Regions from separate parts of the Homo sapiens genome. Here region 1 is linked to region 2. A link means that fine-mapping ties the variant in region 2 to the expression of a gene that starts in the linked region. Tissue or cell type: whole blood. Region 2 holds a variant in brackets; the other region holds the start of a gene. All regions are shown on one strand. Distances are from middle to middle.

Evidence for each region. PIP is the estimated chance that this variant, and not a neighbour inherited with it, causes the effect.
Region 1: it holds the start of NKD1, and the variant in region 2 is fine-mapped to the expression of NKD1 in whole blood (TOPMed, PIP 0.92).

The regions. Positions count from the first base shown.
Region 1 is chr16:50,546,946-50,549,445 of GRCh38, forward strand. It overlaps NKD1 (NKD inhibitor of Wnt signaling pathway 1), which reads left to right and starts at 1,451. Exons shown (of 10, transcript NM_033119.5): 1 at 1,451-1,633; 2 at 1,772-1,804; 3 at 2,477-2,500. The coding sequence starts at 1,609. RefSeq lists silencers at 1,094-1,543, 1,584-1,773.
Region 2 is chr16:50,487,995-50,490,749 of GRCh38, forward strand. No RefSeq gene overlaps it. Among named protein-coding and RNA genes, the nearest start is that of NKD1, 59 kb to the right of the region's middle. The variant G/A (reference allele first, on the strand shown) is at 1,289.

The DNA of each region.
Region 1 (2,500 bases), 59 kb after region 2:
CAAATCCCCAGATGTCAAGTCCGCTATATAAAATGTCCTGTAGTATTTGCATATAACCTACACACATCCTTCTGAATACTTTAAATCATCTCTAGATTCCTTGTAATTCCTAATACAATGTAAATGTTATGTAAATAGTTGTTATACTATATTAAAAAGTTTTTTATTCTTTATTTTTGCTGTATTATTCTTTTTGCATATTTTCAGTCCACAGATGGTTGATGCCACAGATGTGGAACCTGTGAATAAGGAGGGCTGACTGTATTGAGTTAAGCGAAATATATTATTAATATTTCATCTATTTCTTTTTACTTCTAAAAGATGTGGCGACAAGAAAATTTAAAATTACAAATGTGGCCCACATTATATTTCTATTGGGCAGTGCTGCTCTAGAGAGTCGGCAAAAAGGGCAGAATGGAGCCTCCATTATACAGATCACAAAACTGAGCACAGGTAATTCACTCCAAAGGTCGGGGCTGGTCTCACTCTGAGCTGCGGGTTTTCTTTTCCCACGCCAGAGCTGCCTGGTGCCAGGACGAGCGTAACACGGACCCACAGTGTCCCCAGAAGGGGGCAGGCGTTCTGAGAGCCACAAAGGTGGGGTGGAATCCCTTGATGTCGACCGCCACCATCCCCCTCCCCCCGCGCGACCTCCCCGCAGAGACCTCCCCAGACAAAACAAACAAACCCTTGGGTCTGGCGAACTGCAGCGGGGAGCGGAAACCAAGGAAGATCAAAGACTCAGCGGTTACCCCCTTCCGGGCCGCGCAGTTTGGCAGCGCGCCCCGACCCGGGCGGGCACCCACGGGCCCCCGGACGAGGAGATCCCAGAGACTGGCTGATAACGGGGCGCTTTGGACATTTGTCGCTGCCTGGAGAGGGCTGGGCTCACACTGGCCCGGGGTGCGCTGGGGGCTCCTCCTGGACTCCCCAAATAAGAAACTAGAGGAGTGCGGTGGTGGGGGGCGGGTCACGGGGCGGGTAATGAACACTTTCTGCAGAAGGTAGGTCGTGGGAAGACTGGGAAAAGGCAGCGCTGCCGAAGCTTGCACCTGAGCAGCTAAGGTCTCCGCTCCCGACCTCAGTTTCCCCACCTGTAAATTGGAGCCGCCGAGTCCCGCCCTGCCCGTTTAGAGAGAACGTGGAGCGGAGGGAAGTGACAGTACAGTTAGCGATGGCCGGGCTGTTCTGTCCCAATACGCCTCCTGGACAAGCCGCCCCGCCGGGTCGCCAGCCCTGGAGCTCGGCCCCCGGCCCCAGACCGCGGCAGGGAGCGCGGACTGTGTCCCGCCCCTCCCGTCAGCGCCCCGCCCTCGTCCCCGCCCTGCCCCGCCTCCGGCCCCGCCCCCGCCGCAACCAGCCTTGCCTTTGATGCGCCGCACCGGCCAATGGGCGCGCGGGGAGGCGCGGGCCGCGGCGGCGGGCTGGGGGCTCGGCGCTCCCGGGCGTCAGTCGGGCCGCGGCGACGGCGGCAGGAGCGCGTCCCGGCGCCGCCTCGGGCTCCGCTCGGCTCGGGGGCTGCTTCGGGAGGAGGAGAGCCAAGGGAGGCGCCAGGCCCGCGGGCCGGGCGCATGGCTTAGGGACGCTCCCGGCCGCCGCAGCCCCAGCATGGGGAAACTTCACTCCAAGCCGGGTCAGTGCCCCCGCCCGCGCGCTCGCCCCGGGCCCCGCCGCCGTCGCCGCCGCGGTCGCTAACTCTCTCCCTTCCTTTCTTTCCTTCTCCCGCCGCCGCGGCTGCCGCCGCCGCCGCCGCCTCGCGATGTGCCTGCAGCCGCCGTGTGCAAGCGCAGGGAGAGCCCGGAAGGTAGGGGCGCGCGGGGCGCAGACCTCGGGGATGGACGCGGGGGACACCGCGGCCGCGGCAGAACGGCCCAGCCCGCCAGGTCTTATGACCAGGGCCACCCCGAAGCCCCAGTTCCGGCCACCGGCCCCCCAAGCCCGCTCCCTGAGCAGCCTTCGCGCCCCCTCCTCTGTCCCTCCTACCCGCTCCCCGCGGTCCTGCGCTCCCACCGCTGACCCTCAACCCCTCCCCCTCCCGCGTCCCTGCCCTCGGCTCTCACGGCACCCTCTCTTCAGACCCCCAAGCGCCTCCCCGCAAGACCCTGCCCCCTCTTCCTGCCCCCCGGCCCTTCTTCCGATATCCTGGCTCCTGCACCTACTGCGGCCCCTCTCCTGACCCCCAGCCCTCTCCTCCGCAGTCCTGGCTGCCAGTGCTCCCTGGTCTGATCCTAAACCCGTCCTCCTGGGGTACTGCTCACCCCTCTTGCCCCCTTCTGGCTCCTCGCTCCTAGGGCTTCGCTGAACCCCCCTTTACTTACCCGCGTCCCTCTCTTGGCTCCTGCCCCAGCCCGCGAACCCCCTCCTGGCCCCCGTGCCGTGGTCCTTCGCCTCCCACCGCGCCTCCTTCTTCCCTCCGCGGGGGTAACTTTTGGCACCTGGAGCCAGACTCAGGGGCTTCATGTCGTCCCCGTCCCAGGTGACAGCTTCGCCGTGAGCGCTG
Region 2 (2,755 bases):
CTATCATGAGAATAGCATGGAAAAGACTTGCCTCCATGATTCAATTACCCCTCACGGGGTCCTTCCCACAACACGTGGAAATTCAAGATGAGATTTGGGTGGGGACACAGCAAAACCATATCAAAGTTGCAAGTGACAGACAGTCAGTTTGAATTGACATAAACAGCAGGGTGCAGTGGCTCACACCTGTAATCTCAGCACTTTGGGAGGCCAAGGCAGGAGGATCACTTGAAGCCAGGAGTTAAAGACCAGCCTGTACATTCTAGTATAGCGAGACCTCATCTCTACCAAAAAAACAAAACAAAACAAAACAAAAAAAACAAAAAAAAAAACAGTAAAAAATTAGCTGGACTTGGTAGTATGCACCTATAGTTCTAGCTACTTTGGTGGCTAAGGCAGGAGGGTGGTTTGAGCTCAGGAGGTTGAGGCTGCAGTGAGCTATGATGACATCACTGTACTCTAGCCTGGGCAACAGAGTGAGATTCTGTCTCTAAAACAAACAAACAAAACCACATAAAACAAATTGACATACATAAAAATTAGAAATTTATTGCCTCTGACATAATTAAAAGTCTCCGGGAGCATTTTGCTTCAGGTATGGCTGGAGTCAACTGCTTAAAGGATGCCATTAGGTCTGTCTCTGGCACCCTCCATCTTTTTTCTGTGCTTTCTTCAATTTGGTCTCACTGAGAGACTCTCCCTGTATGAGGTGGCAAACATGGCCTCTGCACCTCCAGACTGACATCCTCCCAGCTTGGCAATTACCAAGAAAAGCAAATACCATTCCGTAACAGTTCCATCTCAAGATTCTGCAACAGAGTCACATTGGCTCAGACCCACACTGGACCAATCACTGTGGCCAGGGGATGAACACTCTGATTGGCCAGACTAGGTCATGGGTCCTTCCCAAGGGCTACAGATGGATGCGGCTGGTTCCCCAAAGAAGATCAAAGTTACTAGAATAATGTAAAATGGATGTTATTCAAGTCAAACTAACAGGTGTGCCCCCTGCCCAGGGAATGCTTGGGACTGTCCATACTGATACCTTGCTTTGGGGTTTCCCTGGCTTTGGGGACCAGGCAGAGCTCAGGCAGTAGCTCTGAGCACACATAAACACCCTTTTAGGAGGGTCCCATGGCTTCTACCTCCAGAGACTCACCCAGAGTGGGGCGGTAAGAGGGAAGAGTAGGGGAAATCTGGCCATCCTTCCCCTCTGGGGCTGCTGGTGCCAAGTTTCTGGCTGGAGCTTCTCTTTAGAAGACTGGATCACAAAGCTCTGGAAATGGGC[G/A]TTTGGGATGGAAACACAGACACACAGTTAATTACAGCATCATGCTTGGCGCCACCCTAATTAAGGCAGTTCCCTGGTGGAGGCCAAGATTTAAAGTTCTCTCTTTCACAGTGCCTGGTGGCAAGCAGGCAGCCCTGTCTTCTCCCCTCCCTCTGAGGATCCCCTTCTTCCTGGCTGGGTGGGGAGAGCACCCGGCTTGCTGGCAGGCAGATGAGAAAGGCTGCCTAGGCTCTGTGAGAGGAACACATCTGCCCTCCCAGAACATGGGATAGGACAAGTAGGGACAGTGTGAGGGGCAGAAATGTCAATCCTGGATCTCTCCTGCTGGGAGATGGTGGGCGGGACAGTCATGTTCCACCTCAAAGAAAAAGGTTAGAATTATCTTGGCTCAGGACCTTCCTGAAAGCACGAAATGGCTTCCAGAGGGCACTGGTGACCTTGGAGGCCAGGAACACCATCAGATTGCCGTGTTTGGCTTCGTAGGGGATGTGGAACCCAATATGCTCAGCCAGACTTCCAATGTCCTTGGATCCCACCATGCTCTGACCCAACCTAATTTAAATAGAATAGGAAGGGCAGATTTGCTGCCAAAAATTATATTAAAAACTGCATAGAATTTCTCTTGAAACCAACAGAATTTCCTTCCATTATCCACAATGTAGAATTGTCTGGTTCCATTAGGAATTCACAAGATCACAGAGCTGGCAGGAACATAAAAATCACTTCATATTTAGAGGTGAAAAAATTGAGGCCAAGAGAGATTTCCCTATGATCCCAGGCTGTGTTAGATTAGTGTAGATGACAGCTGGCAAATAAATCTCACCTTGAGTGCCAATGCTGAATGATTGGACAGCTGGAGGCTGTGCTGTTAATGATTCTAAGGTCTTTATCTTGCTCAGTGGGAAATAGACTCTTGATTGGTAATGTCTGCCATGGGCACTGGAGGGAGGATGGTGGTTCATGTGCCAGGCTTTTGCCATCTTGTCTAGATGTCAAAGGGGTACTTGGACATTGACCCTGAAAGTAGGCAATCCTGGAGGTTTTGTCTGTGTGGATAAACTGAAACCCAGAATAGGTTTACCAAGAAGGGCATAAAATCCATGAAACTCTTCATTGAAGGGTCACCAAATTGCTATGAGGGGTTGATGGCCAGGATTACAAAGTGGGAATTCTCAAGGTTTTTCACTTTAATACAGTGCTTGGGCTTCTGATACAGCTTGGGCTCTGTCTCTGTGGCCCTCCCCAGCCTCCAGAGCTGTGTGTCCTCTAGGCCTGTGCTCCTTCAGGGGCTGTGGTCAGTGGTCCTGCTGGGATAGCAGGCCACAGAGGATGGAAAGCTTGAGTTGAAAGGCCAACGCTGAAGGCCTGAGTATTAGGAGATCTAAGTTCTCCTCCTGCATCTGCCATCATCACTGTGTAAACAGAACAAGCCTCTTCCTTCCTAGAGCCTCGTCTATACATTGGATG